4 separate regions of the Homo sapiens genome follow, and regions 1, 2 and 4 are each linked to region 3. The links come from fine-mapping of genetic effects on gene expression. A gene starts in region 3. Each other region holds a variant in brackets. All regions are shown on one strand. Distances are from middle to middle. Region 1 overlaps CPT1C (carnitine palmitoyltransferase 1C). Region 2 holds the start of IL4I1 (interleukin 4 induced 1). Region 3 holds the start of ATF5 (activating transcription factor 5). Region 4 overlaps NUP62 (nucleoporin 62).

The links.
Region 1: its variant is fine-mapped to the expression of ATF5 in tibial artery (GTEx, PIP 0.95).
Region 2: its variant is fine-mapped to the expression of ATF5 in whole blood (TOPMed, PIP above 0.99).
Region 4: its variant is fine-mapped to the expression of ATF5 in skeletal muscle (GTEx, PIP 0.92). The same link has a PIP of 0.9 or more in esophagus muscle and sun-exposed skin.

The regions. Positions count from the first base shown.
Region 1 is chr19:49,701,061-49,706,222 of GRCh38, reverse strand. CPT1C (carnitine palmitoyltransferase 1C) reads right to left here. Exons shown (of 20, transcript NM_001199753.2): 6 at 4,805-4,906; 7 at 4,589-4,726; 8 at 1,436-1,513; 9 at 1,109-1,216; 10 at 925-1,009; 11 at 119-314. Among named protein-coding and RNA genes, the nearest start is that of CPT1C, 13 kb to the right of the region's middle. The variant T/C (reference allele first, on the strand shown) is at 2,732.
Region 2 is chr19:49,894,719-49,899,832 of GRCh38, reverse strand. It overlaps IL4I1 (interleukin 4 induced 1), which reads left to right and starts at 2,946. Exons shown (of 8, transcript NM_152899.2): 1 at 2,946-2,998; 2 at 3,651-3,685; 3 at 3,780-4,018; 4 at 4,653-4,765. The coding sequence starts at 3,673. RefSeq lists enhancers at 1,837-2,016, 4,411-4,460. The variant C/T (reference allele first, on the strand shown) is at 1,925.
Region 3 is chr19:49,926,908-49,932,069 of GRCh38, reverse strand. It overlaps ATF5 (activating transcription factor 5), which reads right to left and starts at 2,865. Exons shown (of 3, transcript NM_001193646.2): 1 at 2,670-2,865; 2 at 1,042-1,338. The coding sequence starts at 1,219. NUP62 (nucleoporin 62) reads left to right here and starts at 2,566. Exons shown (of 3, transcript NM_016553.5): 1 at 2,566-2,744; 2 at 4,255-4,376. It also overlaps a transcript of IL4I1 not described here. RefSeq lists silencers at 2,076-2,125, 2,976-3,035.
Region 4 is chr19:49,902,024-49,907,140 of GRCh38, reverse strand. It overlaps NUP62 (nucleoporin 62), which reads left to right. Exons shown (of 3, transcript NM_016553.5): 3 at 1-316. It also overlaps a transcript of IL4I1 not described here. Among named protein-coding and RNA genes, the nearest start is that of IL4I1, 7.7 kb to the right of the region's middle. The variant G/A (reference allele first, on the strand shown) is at 2,669.

The DNA of each region.
Region 1 (5,162 bases), 230 kb after region 3:
CCCGGGATGTGCCTGAGTCCATCCTGCCCAGCCGCCACCTGGCCCCACCCTGCCCTTCCACAGTCTCAGGACACTGGCGGCCTCTGAGAGCCCCTGACCCCTGACCCCTGACCCTTACCTGGGAGCAGCTGTCAGAGCTGCCAGATGTTCCTCGTGGGGGCAGGCCGGTGAGGGATCATCCAGGATTCTCTGAAACTGCTGCTCCAGGGCTCTCGGGGAAAGCAGGCTGTTTCGGGAGTGGGTCCCCATGCGGAAGAATCGGCCCCGGTGGAAGACAGCCACGTGTTGGCTGTCATGGAGGTGGCGGATGTAGTCTAGGGGTGGCGTTGGCAGAAGCATGGGGGCAGGAAGGCCAGACACATAAAAATAGTGACCATTTATTATATACTTCTTAGGTGTCGTCAGTTGTTCAAAGTACCCTAGTAATCATCAGCACCCTAGGACTTTTATTTACTTAGTATTTGGAGACAAGGTCTCGCTCTGTCGCCAGGCTGGAGTGCAGTGGTGAGATCTCAGCTCACTGCAGCCTCAACCTCCGGGGCTCAGGTGATCCTTCCACTTCAGGCTCCCGATTAACTGGGGCCACAGGTGCATATCACCATGCCTGGCTAATTTTTAAATTTTGTATATAGACCGGATCTCACTACGTTGCCCTAGGCTGGTCTCGAACTCCTGGCCTAAGCAATTGTCCACCTCGGCCCCACAAAGTGCTGGGATTACAGGCATCAGTCACTGCGCCCAGCCCCTAGGTACAATTATTATCCCACTTTAGTGGAAGCTGAGGCTCAGAGAGGGTAATAACGTGCAGAAGGTCACACAGCAAGGAAGCAATGGTTCCCAGCTCAGTCAGGCGGACTCCAGAAAACATGCTCTTAGCCACTATATTGTTCTGCCTCCATCAGTGGGGACAGGAGAGGGTCTCACCTTTTTGGACCCCTGGAATCCGCGTGGTGTTGAAGATCTTCTCGTACTGGGCAGAGCATAAGGGGCGCATTCCCATCAGCAAAGTCTGCAGGAAACCGTGGGCTGTGAGCTGCCTTCCAGGACCCACGTGGCCCAAAGGCCACAGGACCACACCTCCATCCCTAACCCACTGGGGCCCTCTCACCGGGGGTATCTCCTGGCGGTTCAGGCGGTGGCGGTACAGGAGGAGGGCATGGACGGCATTCCCAGCGCGAGCTGCCTGCAGAGGCGTGGGTGTGACATACAGGAAGTCCTGGGGACCAGGAGAGGGGATGGCAAAACACCCAGGGTCAGGTTTGCCCCCGATGGAGCCACTGACCCAAATACAGGTCCTGACCCCAAAAGAGGGTGGAATGATGAATCCCAGATGGCGCGTCTAGATCCAGGTCACTGAGCATGACCGTCACATTCCGCCCAGGTACCCCCCAACCCTAGACCTGGGGCCTATGAACCTCACCCCTCCCCTTCTCACCATCATGTAATAGTTGCTGTTCACCATCAGCGGATTTCGGGAGCGCAGGTACACAAATTCCTCCCACCAGTCACTGACCTGGGAGCGGGGTGGGGAGACACACAGTGAGGGGCTGGGGCCTGTTGGGGGAGGGACAGTAGGACAGGGAAGGCCCCAGATGCTCCTGCGTCAGGCAGGGAGGATAGAGCCAAAGAAGTCAGCCATCGTAGTCAGTAACTAGCGATCACCTAGAAATCCATCCATGGGGGATCAGTTAGCTAAACCCTGTTATACTCCGGCAGTGGAATATTACATAGCTGGTGGAAATAACAAGGTACAGCTGGGCACGGTGGCTCCCGCCTGTAATCCCAGCACTTTGGGAGGCTAAGCGGGTGGATCACCTGAGGTCAGGTGTTCAAGACCAGCCTGGCCAACATGATGAAACCCTGTCTCTACTAAAAATACAAACATTAGCCACACGTGGTGGTGCACGCCTGTAATCCCGGCTACTCGGTAGCCTGAGGCAGGAGAATCGCTTGAGTCGGGGAGGCAGAGGTTGCAAGGAGCTGAGATCGCACCATTGCACTCCAGCCTGGGCAACAAGAGTGAAACTCCGTCCCCCCCAAAAAAGAAAAACAGAACATAAATGTAAAATTTATAAAACAATAAATATGTGAAATAATATACATATGTGTAAATACATGAAAATTGTGGCCTTGCCAATACCATGATAAAATTCAAACAATGAAAAACACAAAAGAAAGCACTGTGTCACGGTTTAGCTGCTCTTGTAGGGTTTTTTGTTGTTGTTGTTGTACATAAAAAAATGGTGCGTGTGTCACTGGCAGTTGGCTTGGAGGTACAATAAAATATACAGGCTGGGCGCAGTGGCTCACACCTCTTATCTCAGCATTTTGGGAGGCTGAGGTGGGAGGATAGCTTGAGCCTCGGAGTTTGAGACCAGTCTGTGCAACATAGCAAGACCCCATGTCTACAAAAAATTTAAAAATTAGCCAGGCTTAGGGGCACATGCCTGTAGTCCCAGCTACTCAGGAGGCTGAGATGGGAGGATGGCTTGAGTCTGGGAGGTCAAGGCTGCAGTGAGCTTTGATCACGCCACTGCACTACAGCCTGGGTGACAGAGTGAGACCCCTTCCAAGAAAGAAAAAGGAAAGAGAGAGAAAGAGAGAAGGAAGGAAGGAAGGAAGGAAGGGAGGGAGGGAGGGAGGGAGGGAGGGAGGGAGGAGAGAGAGACAGAAAGGGAGGGAGGGGGAGAGAGAGAAAGATAGAGAAAGAAAGAAAGAAAGAGGCCGGGCA[T/C]GGTGGCTCACGCCTGTAAATCCCAACACTTTGGGAGGCCGAGGCAGGCGGATCACGAGGTCAGGAGGTCGAGACCATCCTGGCTAACACGGTGAAACCCCATCTCTACTAAAAATACAAAAATACAAAAAAAAAAAAAAAGAAATTAGCCAGGTATGGGAGGCTGAGGCAGGAGAATGGCGTGAACCTGGGAGGTAGAGCTTGCAGTGAGCTGAGACGGTGCCAGTGCACTACAGCCTGGGCGACAGAGTGAGACTCCATCTCAAAGAAAAAAAGGAAGGAAGGAGACAGAAAAAAAGGAAGGAAAGAGAGAGAGAAGGCAGGCAGGCAGGCAGGAAAGAAGGTAGGAAAGGAGGGAGGGAGGGAGGGAAGGAAGGGAAGAAAGAAATGAGTGTGTGTGTGTGTGTGTGTGTGTGTGTGTAAACAGAATCTTGTCCAAAAGTGTGAAGAAAAAAATATTTAACCAGAAAAGCAAGGCCTGCATTCCCTTTTACTTCTCCAGATATTTCGTCCCCTTCGCTGGGTTTGACCAACTGAGGCTTCCACATAGCTGCCTCGTGGGGCTCTGCCGGGGACCCTCTTCCCTTCCCCTCTCACTCTTGCTGCAGCTTTTCTCATCCCAGCCCAGTGTCTCAATGACCTACAATGGTAGGTCTCACGGTAGCTTCCTCTGCAGCCTCCCGCCCTCCAGTCTTTCCCCCACACCAAAGCTGACCCTGCCCCTTCCCTGCTCCAAACCCTCCCATGGCTCCCTAGTACCCCCAGGAAAGAGTCCAGGATCCTCAGTCTGGAGTTCAGGCCTCTCCCACCACTCCTCACCATTCAACTCCTTTGGTTTTGTCTTTTTTTTTTTCTTTTCTTTTTTTTTTTTTGAGACAGAGTCTTGCTCTGTGGCCCAGGCCGAAGTGCAGTGGCGCGATCTCAGTTCAGTGCCACCTCTGCCTCCTGGGTTCAAGCAATCCTCCCGCCTCAGCCTCCCGAGTAGCTGGGATTATAGGCGTGTGCGCCACCAGACCTGTTTAATTTTTGTATTTTTAGTAGAGACGGGGTTTCACCATGTTGGCCAGGCTGGTCTTGAACTCTTGACCTCACGTGATCCGCCTGCCTTGGCCTCGCAACCTGCTGGCATTACAGGCGTGAGACATTGCACCAGGGCTAAGTCCTGGAATTCTGGTTCAAACTTTGGAAGATCAAGGGTGAAGCTCAGAATACTGGAGCATCTATACCCCAAACTTCAACATTAAATATATAGAGAGAGCATATATATGTTATGAGCATATATATATAAATAAATATATAAGCCTATATATAAATAAATATATATTTATTTATAATTTATAAATAAATATATATTTATTTATAATTTATAAATAAATAAATATATATTTATAATTTATAAATAAATATATATTTATAATTTATAAATAAATATATATTTATAATTTATAAATAAATATATATTTATAATTTATAAATAAATATATTTAATATATTTATAATATTTATATATTTATTTATAAATTTATATATAAATATATTTATATATAAATTTATAAATATTAATATTTGTATATAAATATAAATATATATATTTATAAATAAATATATATATTTATATATACACTATATATTTATATATAAATAAATATATATACATATATATTTTTATATATATATAAATGTGGAGGTTAGGATATAGATGTATGTGAGCGGGGCTCAGGGTATTGACCCTTGGGGGCTGGGGGCGTGTGGGTTGTGGGCGTGTCGTGGGGCAGGGCGTATAACTCGCAAGTTTAGCAGGCGAGCTCACAACCTTAGCCCTTCAGGTGGGGCGTTGGTGGCGGTGGCGGGACTCACATAATTGGACGCCCACCAGGACTTGAGCCGCAGGTACCACTGCAGCAGCGACGCCTGCAGCCTCAGGAATTCCTGCGCCAGGACCGCGGTCCAGTCGAAGTCCTCGTCGGAGAGGATGGGCCGGACCGACTCCAGGTACTAAAGGGGAGAAGAGGGCAGGTCACGCCCCCGGCCCGCCCCGGCCGCCCCAGCCCGTCTGCGCGCTCCCAGGCCCACCTTGCGCACGGTGTCCTGCACAGAGGGCACGGGCTGGCGTGGCAGGGAGCGCTGGTAACTGAACAGCATCGGGTGGCGGCCAGAGAAGATGCGGACCAGGGCCTGGGGAGGAGGAGTTACCGGGTCATTAACCCCTCACCGGAGCCAGGGAGTTGACGGGGCAGGGGTCGACAGTGGGACAGAAACCCAAAGAGAAGGACACAGAGACTTAAGAGCATCGGAGACCCCAAGAGAGAAAGGAACAGAGACCCAGAGACAGGGGACAGAGACCCAGAGAGAGGGGGACAGAGACCCAGAGAGAGAGGGGGGCAGAGACCCAGAGAGAGTCGGGGGTAGAGACCCAGAGGGGGGGACGGAG
Region 2 (5,114 bases), 32 kb after region 3:
CTGTAATCCCAGGACTTTGGGAGGCCGAGGCGGGCAGATCACAAAGTCAGGAGATTGAGACCATCCTGGCTAACACGGTGAAATCTCATCTCTACTAAAAATACAAAAATTAGCCGGACGTGGTGGCAGGTGCCTGTAGTCCCAGCTACTCTGGAGGCTGAGGCAGGAGAATGGCGTGAACCCAGGAGGTGGAGCTTGCAGTGAGCCAAGATAGCGCCACTACACTCCAGCCTGGGTGACAGAGTGAGACTCCGTCTCAATTAAAAAAAACAAAAAAAACAAAAAACAGGTGTGGTAGTGCACTCCTGTAGTCCCAGCTACTAGGGAGGCTGAGGTGGGAGGATTGCTTGAGCCCGGGAGGTTGAGGCTGCAGTGAGCCGAGATTGTGCCACTGTGCTCTAGCCTGAGTGACACAGCAAGACCCCATCTCTCAAAACAACAACAACAACCACCCAGAAGTCCCCCAAGGTGAGCTGCACATATGCCTGGGGCCAGAGGAGTTTTGTGCAACAACCCTCTGTGATAAGGACAAGGGGATTGGTGCAGGGCCCCACCCACTCTGGGGACCCAAAAACTCCTGGGACATGCCCTGGGAGCCAGTTGGCTGTGGGCCTCCACACCTTTCCATGGTTGTTTCCACTGTTATGCGGCTGTAGGACTGAACAAGCTATTGGGCAGGGGCCGGGGACCTGGGGCCCACCCGACCTGGTGAGGAATGCCAGCACTGCCATTCCCCACTGTGGGACCCAGGTCGAGGCACAGGCGAATAAGGCCCCAATCCCGCCGCGTTCATACTTGACATGTCGCTGTGAATGAAACTCTGAGACCTAGGCCAAGCCTTTTCCCCTCTCTGTGCCCCAGGGTCCTCCTGTCCCACCCTCTCGCCATCTCCAAGCCTCAGTTTCCTCAACTATCAAATGCAGGCATTGTTGTTGGTTTTTTGTTTGTTTGTTTGTTTGTTTTTGAGACGGAGTCTCACTCTGTCCCCCAGGCTGGAGTGCAGCGGTGCAATCTCGGCTCACTGCAACCTCTGCCTCCCGGGTTCAAGCGATTCTCCTGCCTCAGTGTCCCGAGTAGTTGGGATTACAGGTGTGCACCACCACGCCTGGCTAATTTTTTATATTTTTGGTAGAGACAGGGTTTCATCATTTTGGCCAGGTTGGTCTTGAACTCCTGACCTCAAGTGATCCGCCCACCTCAGCCTCCCAAAGTGCTGGGATTACAGGCGTAAGCCACTGTGCCTGGCCTCAAATGCAGGCATTGTGAGGCTTACGATGGGTGCAAAGCCCTGAGCACCAGGCGGCCTCCAAGGCAGGTGATCGCCATGGGAACATTTTTGTCACTATTTTTTTCTTTTTTAGAGAAAGGGTTTCGCCATCTTGGCCAGGCTGGTCTCGAGCCCCTGGGCTCAAGCAATCCTCCCACCTCGGCCTCCCAAAGTGCTAGGATTACAGCAGTGAGCCTCCGCACCCGGCCCTCATTACTATTTTTTATTTTTATTTTTTATTTTTTGAGATGGAGTCTGGCTCTGTCACCCAGGCTAGAGTGCAGTGGCACGATCTCAGCTCACTGCAACCTCCACCTCTTGGGTTCAAGCAATTCTCCTGTCCCAGCCTCCTGAGTAGTTGGGACTACAGGCGTATGCCACCATGCCCGGCTAATTTTTATATTTTTAGTAGAGACGAGGTTTTGCCATGTTGGCCAGGCTGGTCTTGAACTCCTGACATCAGGTGATCCGCCTGCCTCGACCTCCCAAAGTGCTGGGATTATAGGCGTGAGCCACCCCTGGCCCTCGTCACTATTTTTGCTGACCCAAGCTCTTTCGGTCCCTGAACTCTCCAGCTCTTTGATCATTTCCCTTTGCCACGGCCTCCCGCCCCTGCGTCACATGCCTTGTTACTCACATTCACCCCCCAGCCCCTCC[C/T]GGCCATAACCGCATCCCTCTTTGATTTACTGCGGGAGTTTCCCATCTTCCTTCTTGTTAATGCCCTCCAACCCCCACCCAACCCTTGCTGCAGAGAATCTGCCTCCCTCTGGTTTTCCTCCTCACGGAGCCCCTGGCTCCCTCTCCCCCACCCCAAGGAAAGTCCCTGCTATTGTTTCTCCACCCCCACCCACTCCAAGGTGCCGCCCCACTCCCTGCCCTGAGCACTGAGGTGGTTCTTAAAGCAGGGATGGGTGAAGCCTGGGCGCTTCCCTCTGCCGGGTGGTCACTCATAGAACCCCTGAGTGCCCCTGCGGCCACAGCAGCTGGCATTTCCAAAGGAGCAGCTTCCAGTACTACCCCAGGTTCCGGCCACAGAACTTAACCTGGATTCACTCACTTGATCCTAAAACACTGTGACGTCTGTAGACGTCATTTGACAGCTGTAGACGAGAGCCACAGAGGGGAGGGCGGGCTCAGAGCCCACGTCCTGACCCCGGGACCACGGCTGCCAGCCCCACTGCTACACCCATGTAACGGAGGGGGAGACTGAGGCTCTGGGTGGCAAGTGGAGAGGGAAGTGGAACCATGGGGGGCCCTGCAGGACATGGCGACACCTGACGGAGAGGGACTTGGAGGGGAAAGTTGGCCTGGCCCAGGGACCTGTAGCCCCTCTGTCCCCGTGGGAATCAAGGAGGCAGAGAGAGTGCAGGGGAGGATAGAAACAAGTGGCCTGGTGATCAGGGACGGGGGCAAACCGAAGGGGATTCCCCGTTGTTGGCACGGTTACCTGAGCATCTATTTCTGGCCTCCAAACCACCCCAGAACTATCTGGGGCAAAAGGAAGTGAATAGACTGATTAACTTCCTCCAACCCCCTTTCTCCAACCTCAACTAGACTCTGAGCATTGGACCAGAGCAGCTCCAGGAAACCAGTTTCATTTCCCTCGGCCAGTTTCCCAAAAGGAGGGGTGGGCGGGGCTCTGCCAGTTTAAGGGGAGAGAAAGGGCCACAGCAGAGACAGTGGAGGGCAGTGGAGAGGACCGCGCTGTCCTGCTGTCACCAAGAGCTGGAGGTAGTGACACGGCCAGTGGTGGGGGGACAGAGAGACAGGACCCACAGAAATAGGGACTGAGAAGCAGTCAGGAGCTGGGGAGATGAGGAAGAGGGAAAAGAGGCCGGGCGCGGGGGCTCATGCCTGGAATCCCAGCACTTTGGGAGGCCGAGGTGGGTGGATCACCTAAGGTCAGGAGTTCGAGACCAGCCTGGCCAACATGGCGAAACCCCGTCTCTACTAAAAATACAAAAATTAGCCAGGTTTGGTTATGGGTGTCTGTAATCCCAGTTACTTGGGAGGCTGAAGTGGGAGGATTCTTGAACCTGGGAGGCGGAGGTTGCAGTGAGCCAAGATCTTACCACTGCACTCCAGCCTGGATGGCAGAGAAAGACTGTTAAAAAAAAAAGAAAGAAAGGAAAGAAAGAGGGAAAAGAAGAGAAAGAGACAGGAACCCGAGAGAGCTGTGGCAGAGGTGGAGACCGGTGAGGAGGGAGGCAGGGACGGTCCAGGGGACTCTGAAGGAATGGGGTTAGGGGACACAGGTCCAGAGAGCAGGACAGTGACTGGGGGAGGGCCGGCTCTAGCAGCTGGGCAGCCCATGGGAGACAGAGTCAGGCTACAGTGGTCACAGGCCTCAGTCACAACAGCCCTCCCTTCTCCTCCACCCCAGACACCATCTCCCACCGAGAGTCATGGCCCCATTGGGTGAGTAAGCAGGGGAGGGGCTCTGGAACAAGTGAGTAGAACCCCTCTCCCCCGACCTGCCACAACCCCGTTGACCCTGTCCTCCTCCTCCCAGCCCTGCACCTCCTCGTCCTCGTCCCCATCCTCCTCAGCCTGGTGGCCTCCCAGGACTGGAAGGCTGAACGCAGCCAAGACCCCTTCGAGAAATGCATGCAGGATCCTGACTATGAGCAGCTGCTCAAGGTGGTGACCTGGGGGCTCAATCGGACCCTGAAGCCCCAGAGGGTGATTGTGGTTGGCGCTGGTGTGGCCGGGCTGGTGGCCGCCAAGGTGCTCAGCGATGCTGGACACAAGGTGGGAAGCACTGCTTGCAGTCTACCTGGAGTCCCTCCTGCTGCAGGCTGGAGTCCCTGGGCACAGGGACACGGCCGCGTTCCTCCTTGAGGGGGTGGAGGTGGGGATGTGGGGGGAGAGGCTATCTTTCCCTGTAGTCTGGGGGTGAGGCCCAAGCCCCCTGCTGTCACATGTCTCCACTGAGAGGCCCCAGACTTTCCTGTCCCACGTTTTTCATCCCAGAGGGAAGTCTCACTGGCTCAAAGCTCCTCTGTCCTGGGGTGGGGCGCCTGTTGGTGGAGAGGGAAACTCTACCAAGGGGATGTGTGCCCTGAGGTCTAACCACTGACCTACTCACTGCAATCCGAGAATGAGAATGGGCCAGCCCAGGGGCTTCTACGCATATGGGTCATCTCCGAACTCCCCGAGCTGGGAAGTCCCTTTGCAGTCTAGCTGGCAGCCTTCCTCCTGCAGTCTGGAACTGCTCACTCAGTTCTGTTCCCCCACCTCCATACAGAAGGGGACCCTCTCCTAGTCTGGGTCTGGGCCACTGTGGGGATGGAAGAAGGCAGGGGGCTGGCACGGGGTGGTAGAGGGCAGGGGATGGTCAGTGGGTGGAGCTGAAGGGCCCTCCTCGCCCCACGGACTCCCTCAGGTCACCATCCTGGAGGCAGATAACAGGATCGGGGGCCGCATCTTCACCTACCGGGACCAGAACACGGGCTGGATTGGGGAGCTGGGAGCCATGCGCATGCCCAGCTCTCACAGGTGACCTAGCAACCCACCCACCTGTGTGCCTAGACTCAACTAGCCCCCCAGCTCCATGCCCACACCAGAGTGGGCCCGAACTTCCACTCTGACTCCCAAACCCAGCCTCCAACCCCATCCTTCGCCTAATCCTCACCTCAGTCTTGCCTCCAGCGCCAGCCCTGGGCCTCTGGCAACACTCGGGCCACCTGGTCCAACCAGACCTCCAGCTGGCCCTGCCTGGTGCAAAAGCCAGCTCCTGTGCTGGCCCCTCCAGGCCTGCAGCTCCACCATCCCCACACCCTCAGGCACCCCAGCCCCAGGCCCCTTCTTCATCTCAAACCCCCGTCCAACCCAAACTCTGTCCCCC
Region 3 (5,162 bases):
AACAAATTAGCCAATGAAAGAATCAGTCTTAACCCATAAGAGGGTCCAGGAGAAAAAAAAAATTAAAAAAGAAAAAAAGAACCAGCCAACCAACCAATGACTCAAGCAACAGTCAACCAAGCATTTCTTCAACCATTCCAACATCTCCTTTACCGAGTACTCTGTATCTGTGGTGTCTCTATTCTCTCTTTTTAAAAGGCAAACTAGATCACATTACACACACAGATACACACGCACATATGCCTTGTTTCATCTTTACTCATTAATTATTGAAAACCCACTATGTGCCAAGCATTTGGGATACAGTAATGAATGAAATGATTCCTGCCTCCTGAGGGCTTCTGCATATACAGTTCCCTCCAACTAAAATGCTCTTCCCTTGGGTGTTTTCCTCATTCCTTCCCTACTTTTTTTTTATTTTAAGGGATAGGGTTTCACTCTGTTGCCCAGGCTGCAGTGCAGTGGCATCATCTTGGCTCACTGCAGCCTAGACCTCCCAGGCTCAAGCGATCCTCCCACCTCAGCCTCCCAAGTAGCTGTGACTACAAGCGTGAGCCACCATGCCTGGCTAATTTTTTTTTTCCTATAGATATGAGGTCTCGCTATGTTGCCCACGTCCTGAACTCCTGGACTAAAGCAATTCTCCCCGCTTGGCCTCCCAAAGTGCTGGGATTACAGGCCATCATGCCTGGCTTCCTTCCCATCATTTATGCCTCAGTCAACATGTTACCTACTTGGAGAAGGTTTTCTGGCTACCCATTCTATATTAGGTCCCCTTTGTCATTTTGTAGCTCAGCTGCTAGGTGTTTTTGACTTATTCCAATACACTCTCATTTAATTTATCTCTGGTCTACTCCCCACAGTGTGAGCTGCTGGAAGGCACAGACCATGTTCTTCTTGTTCCCAGCCGTATCCTCAGCACCTAAAACAGTGCCTGGCACATTGTAGGCACTCAATATTTATTGAATACATGGATGAGTTCTTCCTCCCCCATCTTCCCCTGCCCTCCACTCCCCAGCTCCACCTTCCACCTGCCCTTACCTGCCAGGGGCTCTCCCCCCACTGGAAGCCCGCCCTCCAGGGCTCCCCCAAGGACCTCATAGGGAGCCAGGGGGGCAGGGGCCGGGGGGAGTTTCCCATAGTCTACGAGCCATCCCAGCCCACTAGCTGGGAGCAGGGCCCTGTCCAGCTCCAGCCCCAGGGTCGCCAGGAGTGACATGGCTGTAGCACAGGTGCTGGGCACTGATGGCAACAGGAGAGGCTGCACCAGCAGCTGGCACGAGGCTCTGGAGGATGCTCAGGTGGGCGAAGACAGGCACCAAGGCGAAAGTGGAAGACCTACACGCGTGAGACAAGAGTGGGTGTGGTCAGGACAGCGTCATCCACCGGCCAAAATCAAGGGGAAGCCAAGCCACACCCCCAGGCACGTCCATGAGGCTCCTCCCTCCCCCTTCCAACCACCGTTTAGAACACTAAGCCTCAGCCTCTCCGAATTCTAAATTTGCCCTTTCTTTACCCAAATCTCTGAGCCCCACCCACTCCCAAGGGAATTTCTTTAGGTCCTAAAGTAGGACCGATGCCCCACCCCTTCCCCCAATACAGAAAAAAAAAACCTAAAGGTCTCCCAGGGGAATTACCTTAGGCCCCTCCCATCCACCTCAGAATATTTCGCCTCAAGGAAAAACTCAATCCCAGGGACATTTTCTTCCAGCCACGCCCCTTCCTCTAAAATATTTCCTTTTGGCCCCACTGCCTTCCTAGCTTCCATCCCAAACCAGTTCCCAGGGGAACTGCCCCAGGCCGCAGCCCTTCAGCAATGTTATCCACTCAAATCCCACTCCTCGCTCTGCCGCTGCCCCTCCAAGCCCCGCCCCTCATTGTTTATTTAGCTCCGCCCCTCCCCCGATTCCCCAGAGGCCCCGCCTCTTTGTCACATCGAAACCCCACCCCTCAACTAACGGTTGGTTTAGCCCCGCCCCTTCTCACAATGTGCTTCCGAAATCCCACCCATCGTGACGACAGTGGTTCTATCCCCACCCACTTAGAGGGTTGCCTCTGGGTCCCGCCTTCTGCCCTGTCAATCTAAGCCAGTCCCCGCCTCAGCAGGTGCCTGGTTTAAAAGGAAGGAAGCTGGGCTGTGAGCCAGAGCAACGTGGGGCAGGGAGGGTGGAGGAGGGTAGAGGGGGCACGCGGAGAACGGCTACCCGAACGCCACCCGTCCACACGCGGCTCTGCGCCGAGGGCCAAGGCGCATGCTACGTCGCCCGAGCGGTCCAATTGCCTTTACACCTCCGCCCTCTTGGGGATCAATGCGCATGTGCGGCCATTCAGGGTCCGCAGCTCTTTCACTACGGGGCACTGGTGGGCTACTGCGCAGGAACAACCAAGCACGAAGAATCGTTTAGAAAAAAAAAAAACACACCCTCCCCTGGAGTGCTCAGGCCCAGCTGCACGCGGGCTGACAAACATCGAGTCTAGAACTCTCCCACCCGGCCCCGGGCCCAGTGCGCATGCGCAGCCGCGCGCCTTCGGCCCACCGTACTACTTCTGCGCCTGCGCGACCGTGATTCCCCGCTCGCGACTCCCCACCCCCCAGGGCTCCCTAAAGAGGGCCACGAGCTGCGAAAGGGCGGGAAAGGCAGTTGGAGAAGAGGTAAGCGGTTACTCACTCCATGGCTGCAGCAAGGAGAGGCGGCGGCGGCCTCGGCTGAAGAAAGAAGGTGGGAGCGGAGAGCGCAGGCGTGGTGAGCGCGGAGACGGGCCGGGGGCACAAAGGGGTCGAGGCTACAGAGCCATGGCCGGGGCTACGCAGGCAGAGGCGGCGACACTGTAGTGAGAAGAGACTGTGATCCGAGGACAGGGAATGAGGCGGCCCCGGGGACTGGGGACAGATATATACTGGGTGGCGGAGCACGGCCCTCCCGGATCCTTCCGCGCCCCGCCCTCGCGCGGCCCCAACCGGGAGGCAGCCGGGTCCCCTCCTCCTGGGGATCAGGGGATCCGAGCCTTTCCTTCCCACTCCTAGGGTCCGGGACCCTCCTCCCTCTCAGCTGGGGATCCGACCTCTTCCCTCTGAGCCGGGGATCCAGCCCTCTCCTTGTGGCTCCGGGGTCTGGTTTCCTCCTCCTGACTCTAAGCTCTGGTTTCTTTCTCTTTCTGCCTCTGAGGTCTGGGCCTGCTTCCTCCTGTGATTTTGAGGATCCAGCCTCATTCTCTTCCCGCAGACCTGCACCAGTTCATTTCTCTTTCCCTTTCCTTGCTTGCAGAATTTCCTGCCAGTCACTTTTCACTTCTTCATCCCCCAGCTGCTGACTCTGAGAAACCCTCGTGGGTTAGAGTCCAGCATGAGTCACAGCACTCTCCCAAATACAGACCTGCCAGGATGGCCTCGGGCAAATAACTTAAGTTCTCTTACTTCATTTCCCTATCTGTAAAATAAGAAAAATCAACTCGCCTGGTGGGTTTATGAGACTCAAATAAGACGATGTCTGGCAAGCCTTATGCACAGAGCTCAACTCATACATTCCTGTTCAACTGTTTTTTTTTTTTGAGACGGAGTCTCTCCGTCTCTGTCGCCCAGGCTGGAGTGCAGTGGCGCGATCTCGGCTCACTGCAAACTCCGCCTCCCAGGTTCACGCCATTCTCCTGCCTCAGCCTCCCGAGTAGCTGGGACTACAGGCGCCCGCCACCACGCCCGGCTAATTTTTTGTATTTTTAGTAGAGACGGGGTTTCACTGTGTTAGCCAGGATGGTCTCAATTTCCTGGCCTCGTGATCCGCCCGCCTCGGCCTCCCAAAGTGCTGGGATTACAGGCGTGAGCCATCGCTCCCGGCCTCAGCATATTTTATTAATAGGAACTCTGGGGCCCAGTCTCATTTCTTCCTTACCACTTGTAAGAGCCGCAGACGTTGGACTGTCCAACACCTGCTGTCATTCTTCTGTCTCCCTCATCCCTCTAAAGTGTCTGTTTCCAGCTATCCTCATCTTCCATTCCAAATGATGGGTGCCCAGGCCCCATCCCCTGGCAGGGATTCAGACATCGAGGCCCCAGCTGCGTCCTTTTCTCCATCCCTTGCCCTTGGCTTCCTTTCAAACCGTCCTTCAGCTTCCACTGGATAGGAACTATCTCCCAACCCTGCCAAAAATGGAAGATCTCCGTTTTCGTTTAGTCACAGGGTAGCCATCTTGCCCCTTCTCATGCACTGGGCCCTCCTCCACCAGCCGAGGTGGATGTCCGTCTTTTCTCTGTTGCAGAAACCCACCTTGTCCCATCCACATCAGGACATCCCAGCTGGAGTTCAACCTTCATCCCTTCTGTGGCAGTTAGGAGACTGAATCAAGGTCCAGAGAAGGTGGAGGAATCCTGATACTGAGCGGTACACACAAGCTTCTTTCTCCTTCCTTACCTGTTGCGGGCAGGAAGTCCTTCTTGGGATCTGACCACCTTCCCTTAGAGCACTTACTGTCCACTCTGCCAGTTTTTGAGCACTTGCCCTATATTTTCTTGGGCCTATAGGGGCTGTGTTATCACTGAGGCAGTATACAGAGTAGCAGCTAAGAGCATAGACTGAGCTTGTCCCACCCGTGGGCCTGCATGCGGCCTAGAACAGCTTTGAATGCAGCCTAACACAAATTTGTAAACCTTACCAAAACATGCGAATTTTTTGCGATTTTTTTTTAAGTTCATCAGCTATCAATAGTGTATGTTATGTGTGGCCTAAGACAATTCTTCAATGTGGCCCCAGGAAGCCAAATTTTATACATACCTGGCATAGACTCTGGAGCCAGATTATATGAGTTCAAAACTTGACTGCACCCCTCTTACTAGCTGTGTGACCCTGGCCATTTCCCTTCCCTGTGCCTCAGTTTCCCCTGTGGTACGAAGTGGCATTAAGAATACCTACCTCTGGACCAGGCACGGTGGCTCATGCCTGTAGTCCCACCACCCTGGGAGGCTGAGGTGGGCAGATTGCTTGATCTCAGGAATTCGAGACCAGCCTGGGCAACATGGTGAAACCCTGTCTCTACCAAAAATACAAAAAAATAGTCGGGTGTGGTGGTTTGCACCTGTGGTCCCAGCTACTCATGAGGCTAAGGCAGGAGGATCACTTGAACCCTGGGGTGGGGCGGAGGTTGCAGTAAGCCGAGATTGTGCCACCACA
Region 4 (5,117 bases), 25 kb after region 3:
AGACCCACTGTCGTTCCCCGTGTGTCCCCAGCCCGGTCCCTGTCACATTTGTTAAATGAAAGAACAATGAAGCCCAGTGTAACGTCAGTCCACAGAAATAGCCACAGCTTCCAGTGGTGGCCGTAGACTTGGCTCGGAACTTAGTGGCACCAGAGTAACTCTAGTCAGTTACAGTAAAATCCACTGTGTGTGGAAGGCAGAAGCTAGCGGTTGTATCCCAAGCATCTTTTGTATTTGTCTTTATACTTTGCTGAATTCTCTGAAATACCTATTACTGTATGTTGCTTTTCTAAATAAATGTATTGTGAAACCAAAACAGCTGCTGTTAATATGGATAAATGTTAGGAGGAGAAAGCTGAGTAAAAAGAGCAGGTTCCAGGAGACTCTGCAGGGGTGCCATTCACATGAAACGCACAGGCAAGCAAATGAAGTAGTGCTTGCATAGACATAGGGGTATGCGATGAAGCAGCTTTTGTTTGATGAGACAGAGTAATAGACAAATGCAAATCGTGGTTTGCTCCAGGAAGGGGTGGTGCTAGTGGTAGAAGAGGAACACACGAGTGAAGCCGCCACGGGGAGTGGGCTCCAGGTGTTTTGTGACAGTTATGTCGTAGAATATACACAAATATGGCTGGGCGAGGTGGCTCACACCTGTAATCCCAGCACTTTGGGAGGCCAAGATGGGCAGATCACTTGAGGTCAGGGATTCAAGACCAGCCTGGGCAACATGGTGAAACCCCGTCTCTATAAAAACTACAAAAAAGTTTGGTTGTGCGTGGTGGCACGCAACTGTGGTCCCAGCTACCTGGGAGGCTGAGATGGAAGGATCATTTAAGCCCAGGCCTTTGAGGCTGCAGTGAGCCATGATCACACCACTGCACTCCAGCCTGGGCGACAGAGCAAGACTCTGTCTCAAAAAATATACACACATGTTAAGTCATCTAGTACCATCCCTAAGGCGCTATTCCAGTGGTTACAGATGTCATGGGCAGCATTCCTTCCTGTCACCTGGGGCTAAAGACACGGGCCCAATGCTCTTCCTCCACCCTCCAGCCTCGCTCTATGGACTGGAATGGTCCTAAGCACTCAGATCTCCTGGGCTGTGGGGAGTGGAGTGTACCCCTTTGGCCTCCTGCTGCCTGTTCCATCTCAGTCTGTGGGCAACACTTGGGAGATTCATGGCCCAGGTTCCAAAAGTCTCCCGAAGTCATGATCATGAGTCATTATTTCCTTGGACCGGCCAGGTGCGGTGGCTCACACCTGTAATCCCAGCACTTTGGGAGGCCAAGGCTGGCAGAACACCTGAGGTCAGGAGTTCGAGACCAGCATGGCCAACATGGAGAAATCCCATCTCTACCAAAAATACAAACATGAGCTGGTGGCTAGTTAAGTGGCGGGCGCCTGTAATCCCAGCTACTCGGGAGGCTGTGGCAGGAGAATCGCTTGAACCCGAGAGGTGGAGGTTGCAGTGAGCCGAGATCATGCCATTGCACTCCAGCCTAGGCAACAAAAGCGAAACTTCGTCTCAAATAAATAAATAAAATTTCCTTGCACCATCTTGGGCTCTGGAGGACAAGAGTTGTGTCTAAGTAGAAACCATGGGTGTGTGTGGTGGGAGCAGTAAACCAGAGGAAGACCCCACAACCCAGCTACTTCTCTCTGAAAGCTGTCACCTACAGCAGGGACCTTTTCCTGCAGTTCATAGGCCTTGACTCATATTGTCCCCTCTGCCGGAAGGGAGGCCTTGAGTCCCCTTAGGAGGTAGGAAGCAGTTTGCATTTTACCTACATTTGTGCGTTCAGCATCCATTTTTAGAGCTGATCCTGATCTGGTGCTGGAGGTACCAAAAAATGCCCACAAGGTCGTTGGCAGGGGCCACACAATCATGATGAGAAAATTTGAGCATGTATTTCCAAAGTGTACATGTATATTTTTCCTATTATTTTGCATATTATTTCCTATTTTGTATATTAACCATTAGCAAAGCTTAATTGCTTTCTTATAGTTATATTTTTAAAATAAATTCCAGCTTTGGGAGGCCGAGGCGGGTGGATCACCTGAGGTCAGGAGTTTGAGACCAGCCTGGCCAACATGGTGAAACCCCGTATCTTCTAAAAATACAAAAATTAGGGGCTGGGCACGGTGGCTCATGCCTGTAATCCCAGCCCTTTGGGAGGCCAAGGTGGGCGGATCACGAGGTTAGGAGATCGAGACCATCCTGGCTAACACGGTGAAACCCTGTCTCTACTAAAAATATAAAAAAATTAGCCGGGTGTGGTGGCAGGCGCCTATAGTCCCAGCTACTCGGGAGACTGAGGCAGGAGAATGGCATGAACCCGGGAGGCGGAGCTTACAGTGAGCAGAGATCAAGCCACTGCACTCCAGCCTGGGCAAAAGAGTGACTCCGTCTCAAATAAGTAAATAAATAATACAAAAATTAGCCCGGCGTGGTGGTGGGTGCCTGTAACTCCCAGGTACTCAGGAGAATCACTTGAACCTGGGAGGCGGAGGTTGCAGTGAGCCAAGATCGCGCCACTGCACTCCAGCCTGGGCAACAAAGTTAGACTTCATCTCAAAAAAAAAATTTTAAGTTCTGCATTTTCTTCCCATACCCCAAAGGATCTTGAGCACCCCACTCTGAATAACACAAGTGATTCCATTAAATCAG[G/A]AGGCTCTGTGCCCCAAAGCCATGTGAGAAATGGTCCCAACAGGCCTCCTGGGGGAGTCTAGGAGGGATCCCGAGATCGCAGCAGCATCAGCAACCGACTGGGTGCCACCGCGGGTGATGGCTCCATCGTAATTTCAGTTTCCCTTTCCAGGAAGAAAATACACAGATGTGCTTCCTTCCCAGTCCTGACAAATGGCCTTTCCTTAAGTTCCTCATTAATTCATATGAAGACAACACATTTGGTGACTAAATTTGGAATCAGAGGCTTTTAAAGGTGAATCTCAGCTCTTACTGCTTTGCTTTCCCCTGTTTAGGGATAAGAGTGGCAAATGGGGGCTGGGTGTGGTGGCTCATGCCTGTAATCCCGACATTTTGGGGAGGCCAAGGGGAGTAGATTACTTGGGGTCTGGAGTTTGAGACCAGCCTGGGCAACATGGCGAAACCTCGTCTCTACAAAAATACAAAAATTAGCCTGGCGTAGTGGCTCCTGCCTGTAGTTTCAGATACTTGGAGGCTGAGGTGGGAGGATCACATGAACCTGGGAGGCAGACATTGCAGTGAGCCGAGATCGTACCACTGCACTCCAGCCTGGGTAACAAAAGTGAGACCCTGTCTCAAAAAAAAAAAAAAAAAAAAAAAAAACCCAGCACATATAACAGTATAATATGTAGTCAAACCATGAGGGAATGATGACTTTTTATTCTTTTTTAGTAAAAACTAATCATCAATACAATTTATTTTTTAGTAATGAGTGGCTTGCAAAGCAAAAACTCCTGAAAATGTAAATCAGCTCTTATGACCTGGTATGACTCAGCTTCAGCACACCACTGCTCCCAAGTTTTCAGTAAACCCCAAAAATGTCAGGGTGCTTTAAAAATCTGCCCCTCAGACTCAGGGCAGCGGCTCTCCACAGAACCTCCCAGGGAGCAAAGCCCTCACGCTCGGAAGCGAGGTCTGCTTCTTGCACAGCAGCCAGCCCCCCAGCCAGGTTTCAGTGACCCCGGCTGTTCCCCTGCCTGTCCCACAGGACCACACCCTTGGCTTCTGCACACCAGGGCCCTGGTGACTTCAAACACAGTGACCCACATGGGCGCCCTTGTCCCGTCTCCCCTCCAGACACCATCAGGTTGAACCCTCTCAGACGCCAAAGGTTTCCCGAGGCAAGAAGCAGACCGGGTGCGCTGCCGTGATGGGGACTAGCCTGGTGCCCTGGGGTCACCTCAGATACCCTAGTTCCCTTGAATCCACAGAACTGATAGTGACACTTACTGACCAAGACAATGTCACTCAAATGCAATATGGACTGTGATTTGCATCTTGACAAACCAACCGTTTTTTGTTTTGTTGTTGTTTTTTTTTTCAGAGAGTCCTGCTCTGTTGCTCAGGCTGGCGTGCAGTGGTGTGATCTCGGCTCACTGCAATCTCTGCCTCCCGGGTTCAAGCGATTCTCCTGCCTCAGCCTCCTGAGTAGCTGGGACTACAGGCGTGCACTACCACACCCAGCTAATTTTCGTATTTTTAGTAGAGACAGGGTTTTACCATGTTGGCCAGGATGGTCTTGATCTCCTGACCTTGTGATCCACCTGTCTCGGCCTCCCAGAGTGCTGGGATTACAGGCATGAGCCACCACACCTGGCCTTTTTTTTTTGAGATGCAGTCCCGCTCTGTCGCCTAGGCTGGAGTGGCATGATCTCAACTCATAGCGACCTCTGCCTCCCAGGTTCAAGTGATTCTCCTGCCTCAGCCTCCTGAGTAGCTGGGATTACAGAGGTGCCCGCCACCACGCCTGGCTAATTTTTGTATTTTTAGTAGAGATGGGGTTTCACCATGTTGCCCAGGCTGGTCTTGAGCTCCTGACCTCAGGTGATCCGCTCACCTCGGCCTCCCAAAGTACTGTGATTGCAGGTGTCAGCCACCATGCCCGGCCTAAACTGTTTTTTTGTTTTGTTTTGTTTTGTTTTTCAGTGATGAGCTATTCCAGGAAACGTGAACATTGATTTAATGATATTAAGAAATGGCTGCCATCCGGAGCTTGCAGTGAGCCGAGATCGTGCCACTGCACTCCAGCCTGGGCAACTGAGCGAGACTCCATCTCAAAAAAAAAAAAAAAAAAGAAATGGCTGCCATCTTAAAATATGATAATGATATTGTAGTTTTTAAAAAGCAAAACATGGTCAGGTGCAGTGGCTCAGCCTTGTAATCCCAGCACTTTGGGAGGCCAAGATGGGAGGGATCACCCGAAGTCAGGAGTTCGAGACCAGCCCAGCCAACATGGTGAAACCCTGTCTCTACTAAAAATACGAAAATTAGCTGGGCATGGTGGCCTGTACCTGTAATCGCAGCTCCTCGGGAGGCTGAGGCAGGAGAACCACTTGAACCCAGGAGGTGGAGGTTGCAGTGAGCTGAGATTGTGCCACTGCACTCCGGCCTGGGTGACAGAACGAGACTC